Homo sapiens: one gene and its partner. The protein of the gene in region 2 interacts with the protein of the main gene of each other region in a pairwise test. Each region holds a gene or a part of one and is shown on either strand. Other genes may lie near its edges.

Region 1 (3,751 bases), about 25 Mb from region 2:
GGCTGCCCCCAAGCCCGGCCTCCCTGCGCACCCTTACCCCAGGTCCAGGTGACCACCTGTCTTCAAAGCCTCCATCCTGGGCAAAGGCAGAAAGAATGGGTATCTTAGTTTTTTTTTTTTTTTTTTTAAAGATAGAGTTTTGCTTTTGTTGCTCAGGCTGGAGTGCAGTGGCACAATCTTGGCTCACTGCAACCTCTGCCTCCCAGGTTCAAGTGATTCTCCTGCCTCAGCCTCCTGAGTACCTGGGATTATAGGCATGCGCCACCTTGTCCGGCTAATTTTGTATTTTTAGTAGAGACGGGGACTCAAACTCCCGACCTCAACTCATCCGCCCGCCTCGGCCTCCCAAAGTGCTGGGATTACAGGCGGGAGCCACCGCGCCGGGCCATCTTAGATCTTAGAGCCCACTTTAGTCCTTGAAATACATCTGAGAAGCCAATGGCAGCGAATGACGGTGCCCGCCTGCCCCAGGCACCTTGGGTGGGCCAGGCCCTGCTTCAGGAGGTGGCGGGCCACTCCGGAGACTGATGCAGCCCCACCCCAATGGTTGTCGGACTCAGCTGTGTCTGAGGTCTGTGAACTCCCAGCCTCTCAGAACCCCATGGCAACACGACAAGGACAAGGCAGGGCATGAGGAGGAGGAGAAAGTGATGCCTGTGGCCAGGAAGGCTTCAGACCTCTCATCTGTCAATGGGCCAGAGTGATGCCTCAGGCACCGCTAGAAACCCAGGGCCGGACAGGAGGCGAGGAGGGTGAGTGGGGACATGGCAGGGCTGAGCTGATGCTCAGCTGACTCCATGAGAAGGGAAGTGACCTTCACATGGGGGATACTGGACAGCACCCTCTACCTGCCTTCAGCAACCACTGAGAACACCCGGGGCACACACGGGGCAGGGGTGGCACCCAGGGTCACCTGTCTCCCTAAGGAGGCCCACTCCTCCCCCAGAAAGCCAGGGGGGAAAAGCTGCTCATCACCCAGGGTGGCAGAAACGTCTCCCCCAGCAGTTGGGCTGCCCAGCAGGGCCACCAGGCCTCTGTCCCAGCTGCCTTAAGAGGCTCTTTCAATGGGCCAGCTTCAGAACCATCCAGTGTACCGCAGCGGCCTGGCCTGGGAAAGGATTTCTCAGCCTGACTTTCCAGAGACCGAGGATGAGAAAGTTAGGCGGCAACAGAACAAAACCCCCGCCGCGAGATGGGTCTGCTGCTGCCTCATCTGAGTAGGTGTAAGAGGGGAGGAGAGGTGCCCTCAACACTCACTGCAGTGGCGCACGGGTTTTGGATGGGGGGACAGCATCTTGGCCCTCACAGCTGTGGCAGTGCCTCTGCGGGCCATGGTCCCAGCCCCCCACCCTGAGCAATGCTTCCCAGGCCCGCAGGTGCAGCCCCCTCTGCCCTTGGCCCAACCGTGGGCCCCTCCAGGGAGATGCTCTCGGCTGCCTTGCTACCCAGGGGTCGGCTCCGAGGAGAGGCCCAGGTGTGAGCAGCAGGGACCTGGTCTATGGCCTATGCCATGGACAAGGCAGAAGGACTGCCGTTGGTGGCCTGGGGGATGCGAGGGGAGGGGCAGTTCACATCGCAGCTCTCTCCGAACTCCACCATTTGGGACGTCTTTATTATGGATCCGTCCACTCTTCCAGGAGCAGTAGCCCTTCTAGGAAAGGGGTGGGAAGAAAACCAGCCTACCCTTCAAGCTGACTTAGGATGCAATGGTACAGACACCAGCCTTGGGGGAGGGTTCTCCATCCACACTCCTACCCCAAACGGGCTTTGTGCTGCTCAATGGGGATTCGGGGCCATCAGAAGCGATGCCGCGGCTGGGGGCCAAAGTGCATGGGCAGGTTGTGCTCCAGGGGCATGTGGATGGGACCGAAGTCATAGTTGACCCGCACGTTGGGCAGAGGGGGCACGTACGGGGCTGGGATAGGCCCCATGTTGAGTGGGAAGTTGTTGAACACAGGCCGCACGGGAGGCAGGGGGAAGGGTGGGTGCGCGAAGGCATAGGGTGGCATCTGTGGCTGTGGCAGGTTCTGCGGAACGGGCCTCGGGAGGGCCTCCACCCTCTGCACCTTCTCCACAGGCTTCTCCAGCGGGGGTCCAATGCGTTTGAAGGTGTTCTCTGAAAGGGATGTGGGGATTAGTGGAGAAAAACATTAAACCAACCTCAATGGAATCTAGCCTGGGACCAGGGCAGCGACCTCTGGACACGGGAGTGGCTCCACATGCTGATCAAAGCACAAAACGTGGACACCTCCCAAATGCCACTGCAAGAAACCAAGAACAAATCTGTACTTCCACCAGTGTCTTGCTCCACAGTGGCACCTTGGAAGGTGGCACGTCCACCCACCCAGCCAGACATCCTTCAGAGCCAGGGCCTTGATGGGCCACCTCAGTGACTCAGTTACTTTTTTTTTTTTTTTTAATAGATGGGGTTTTGCCATGTTGCCCGGGCTGGTCTCAAACTCCTGGGCTCAACTGATCCACCTGCCTCACCCTCCCGAGTGCTGGGATTGCAGATGTGAGCCACTGCACTTAGCCTCTTTTTTTTAAAGAAAAACAGATGGGGTCTTGCTATTTTGCCCAGGCTAGCCCCAACCTCCTGGGATCCAGTGATGCTCCCACCTCTGCCTCCTGAGGAGCTGGGATCGCAGATGTGTGCCAACACACCTGGCTTCACTGCTTTTCAGCCTCAGAAGGATCAGCTGGGTCTACTTTTCTTTAGCCAGGTGTGGCTTGATTGATTCCTGAGCTCAAACCCACCCCTTGGGACTTCCTCACCATCAAGGAGATGCCAAAACTATATTCAAGGCGTTGAAGGCCTTTCCATAAGCCTGAGATGTGGCCGCGTGGGTGAAGTCAGGTCTATAGCCACCTGAGGGACAGCACCCCCTCCTCTCCTGTGCTGGGTTGAGTGCCAGGACACTCAGGGAGGCCAGCAGAAGCCTGCATGGCCTGGCTGCTGCTCTGTCCTGGGGGCCTGGGGAGGGGCACTTGCCTCCATTCTTTCTTTTCTGTTCCTCTTCAGCCTCCTTCTGGATTTCCTCAATAAGCTTCTCATCATCTTCCTAAAACGCAAGCAATGAGAAGGATGAACCTGTAGCTTCATGCAGTGCTGAGGCCCCGTGGGACAGTGAGGAGGCCGCTTGTTGCTTATGGCCATGGAACAAGCCCGAAGCCTGCTGCTGGCCAGTGGGGCCTGGGCTGCACACCGTTCCTTCCTATTTCCCCGAAGGCCTCCTTCCTTCATCAGCCTGATGGCGTTCCACAAGGAGGCCATCCACAAGGCTGGGCAGAGGGGTCTGAGCATGGCAGGCAGCTGCCTGGTGAGGTGGGGGGATGGAGGGCCTCCATGCACTGAGCTGCGTGCAAGTGGTGGATATGAGAAGGGTTTGGAGAGGGCTGGGTCTGAGTGGGCACAGCCTGAAAAGTTTCAGATCCCAAGTCCACAAGCGCTCGGCATGGCAGCCTGTCTGCAGAGCCTGGAAAAGTCTTGCAGATGTCCTCAACTGAGATGGACAAATGTCCAGTCGGGCCCTGCTTAGCCCCCAAGGCTGGCCTTGGCTCCTGGGCCAGGCCTCGGGGAGAGGAGGAAGGTGCGACAGTGAGGATGGTCCCCCTCGGACCTTGCCGTCTCTTCTCCCAAACCCCATGCTTGGTAGGCCTGAAATAACAAACACAATTCACACTTGGGTTATCCAAGCCTCAGACACGAACCGAAGAGGCACTGTGAGTGCAGGCAGATGTGGGAGCTGTG
Region 2 (3,751 bases):
TCTGCGGATGTAGAGGGGAAGGGCAGGAAGAGCGCTCTCAGCTCCCCGGAGAGGGTGCTCCAATCTTGAGTGTGCTTGGGAGAAGAAAGTCTCTTTTTCCGGCTCCTGTCTCCCTTGCAGATTTTAGTAAATGGAATAAAAAACCAAGTTTGCCTCTAAAGAGAGAAAAGATGACTAGTCGTAAGGCACGTCGATGACTACACTTGGTGGTCAATTTTTTATTTGGAGAGCTGCTCGATGACATAGCAAGGTAAAAGTGTCAAATAAGTGGTAACATTTAAATAGCTGGTAAAATATAAATACTATCGCCACCACCAGGAACTCCAAAATTACCTAAACAATATATATAATTGTTCATTGTATTGAAGGGATGTCACTAAAGAGAAATGACCAGTTGGTTCCCTCTCACTTAACAGACCTGACAGGGAGTGGCTGCCTGGAGTTTCAGGATTCTGAGGCCCCGTGGAAAACACTGTGGTCAACTAGCAATGGCTGTCCTGCATGAAAAGGGCGCAGCTGAGGTGTGCATCTGCATATTTGCCATCTTTATCCAAAAGAGATGTACCATGGGCGATTCTGTTCCATAACACCCCTAGGTGATTCATACTGACCCAAACCATAGGTAGCACTCAACACCCTCCCTCTCTTCAGCTTAGGGTACCTTATTGAAAAAGACCCAGGAAACCAAGCACATAGCCATGACCACCTCTCTTCTGCAGTTCCTTTTTCCAGCTCCCTACCTTACCTCAGATGAAACCAGCACATCTACTGACAGGTCCCCAGGCTGGAAGTTTTCTGACTGCTCTTTCAAGAGCTGCTCACTCACTGCCCTTCTGGAAAGGGGAGAGGAGAGGCAGTTCTCTGTGGCCTTCTGGAATTTGGAGGCACCTTAGTGTAGGGTCTACAGATTTATTGAGAGGGTGTGTGGAAAAAGACACTGGCACTAGAGTCCAGAGGCCAGAGCTCTAGTTAGCTGGAGACCTCTGCCAAGTCACCACCTTGCTGACCCTCAATGTCCTTCTCTGTAAAGCGCCATGATACCTGCTCTATCTCACAGAGTAACTATGGAGATGACATGAGAGATTGAAGGCAGCCATGATCTGCAAACTATGGAGCCTTATGTAACTACACGTGATGTGATGTGATGTAATCTAGCTATATTATCTCTAAGGAACTAGGGAAACTGGGAGTGGCCAAGAGAGTCACTCCTTATCTATAAGAAACACGTGAGCCTATGGCCTATCCCAGGGAACATGGGTCGTTATAGGGGATTAAAATCGGCCCTGAGTTCTGGGTTAAATGAATGTTGCCAGGTGGAGGTCATTAGCGGGAGGGTGTTGAGTGAAAATCCTATATACACTGCACACTGATTGCAGGAGGTTGGTTTTCCTGCCCAGCCCACCACCACGGGACCACGTGGTTCTTCTGTCCAGCCTGCCGCCACTGGACTGCATGTAAGGCGATTCTCCTGCCCAGCCCCTGCTGCTGGACTCTCTCCCCTGTATGTCAGTACGGTAAAACCCCGTGTCTCGTTTGCTGGCTCTGGGTCTCTTCTTTGGCCTCTTGAACCTGGTGCCTTCCCTACTGAGGTTAAAGGGGGTTTAGGCCAGGCACGGTGGCTCACATCTGTAATCCCAGCACTTTGGGAGGCCGAGGCAGGCGGATCACTTGAGGACAGGAGTTTGAGACCAGCCTAGCCAACATGGTGAAACACCATCTCTACTAAAAATATGAAAATTAGCTGGGCATGGTGGCGTGTGCCTATAGTCCCAGCTACTTGGGAGGCAGAGGTGAGAGAATCGCTTGAACCAGGAAGACAGAGGTTGCAGTGAGCCAAGATCGTGCCATTGCACTCCAGCCTGGGTGACACAGCAAGACTCCGTCTAAAAAAATAAAATAAAATAAAATAAAAAGGGGGTTTGGCACAGCAAATGCACTGTCTTAAGCAGAATTACACACATTAACTCCTTTGCTCCTCATAATGACCTTGTGTTGGACACTTTTATTGTCCCCCTTTTACAGATAAGACCTGAAGAGGTTGAGTAACTTGCCTAGAGTCACCCAGTAAGTGGCAGAGCCAGGATTCAATTCAAACCTGGGTGATCTGACAGCAGACTTCACACCCCTACCCACCAGGCCACCCAGGAGACTCCCATTCAGCTGTTAATGCTGTTCCTATTAGCTGGAGGTTTCAATGTTTTCCGCTGGGGAATAAATCTTTTTTAAAAATGCAATATGAAATGCTAATGTCTAAATTTGTGAGGAGGGACAATTTGGAAGCATGGATAGAAAGCACCAGAAATAGACTGCCTGGAATTCTAAGGGACATATCTTACAGATATGTAGTAATCTAGCATCCTCACCTCTATGCTTAATCCCACCTATGGTGGGCAAGTCTAAATTTAACTTCTGGATCCCAATTTTCAACAGTCAAGAAGAGACAGGCGTACACACAGACTGGGAAGAATTCTGGAGCCCTGGCTTTTACTGCAACCACACATTCTCATACCAAAAAGGTGGGCCAAAAAACGAAAGTGACTGGTATATTTAAATTATTCCTGACAGTTATAATCATTTATTCCTATTTCAGTGAATTTTTTTTCAGCTGACTGGGAAAATAGTTTATGCTCACTCTGGACAAGAGAGTTAGCATTTCCAGTGTCTCACTGTCCACAAAGCTTCCTGTGAGCTATCGGTGATCACATAAGCACTGCTGGGGCCCATCTATCCAAACAGGTTGCACCAGAAAGGCAGAGCTGCCAACTCTGGAGAATTCAGTTCCTCAGACCCAAGAGAGTATCTGTTATCTGTAGGGCCGACTACAGGTCTTTTGGATAATAGTGTAAACTATGTGAGGCCATATTGAGGTGGCATTTAGCAGCTACTGTCTCTGGAGGGGGCACTCAGCACAGTGGGCTAGAAGGTCTTCATAAAGGAAGGGGAGGTGGTGTCTGTACCCTGGAGAGCACGGCCAATCAACCATGGCTTTTGTGCATCGAGCAAGTGCCCTGTGGCTTCAGAGATCCTTGTATGTACCTTCCAGGGACTCCCCTTAGGCAGTCTCTCTTCTCCTTCACTATGTGTAGGTGTGGATAATGTGCTCAGCAATCTACCTCAAACGCAGATGATGATTCAACAGGTCTCAAGTGGGACCCAATTCTGCATCTCTAACACACTCCCAGGTGATGGGAATACTGTTAGTCCAAGAGCCAGGGGTGGTAGGACTCTAAAGCATTTGGGAAATGTGGCACCATATATCTTCATGATTATGATGCTGGCGGTATGGGGAAACCCCTGGTGGGGTCCTGGTCTGTCAGTCAGTCTTCTTGACCCTAAGGAAAAAAGGGTGGCAAGATGGATGCAGCACAATGGGCAGGAGGAGGCACTCTCTTACCTTTTGAGGCCATCATACTCTCTAAAAAAGAGAATGGTTTGAATGTTCATAACATGAATGAGAAAAAAAAAAAGGAAAAAAGAAAAAAAAGATAAACTGTCAATATTCCATGTTTATTATGAAACCCACATGTGTGCATAATCTTTTCTCATCAGACTTTCCCTGATCCACCCAGGCAGCTTCTGACAGGTGGATTCTTTCTCTTTTCCAGGCTCTTGACCAGACTCCATGAGTAGAGGCAAGAATTGGACTTTTTCTGGGACACAGGATTTTCCTGTGGGATTTAAGCCGCAGCTCTCCAGCCACTTGTGGCAAACTGAAAATATCAATCTTGCTTATGCCAGTGAACCAGAATTA

What was found.
Region 1: the proteins of MTURN (region 2) and RNF216 interact in binary tests that used the Homo sapiens proteins (3 or more experiments, as listed by UniProt).

What each region holds. Positions count from the first base shown.
Region 1 is NC_000007.14:5,621,064-5,624,814, forward strand, and holds part of RNF216 (E3 ubiquitin-protein ligase RNF216), read right to left. Parts: intron 3,063-3,751; coding exon 2,993-3,062; intron 2,117-2,992; coding exon 1,797-2,116; 3' UTR 1-1,796.
Region 2 is NC_000007.14:30,151,871-30,155,621, reverse strand, and holds part of MTURN (maturin), read right to left. Parts: intron 1-3,751. UniProt on the Homo sapiens protein: Promotes megakaryocyte differentiation by enhancing ERK and JNK signaling as well as up-regulating RUNX1 and FLI1 expression. Represses NF-kappa-B transcriptional activity by inhibiting phosphorylation of RELA at 'Ser-536'.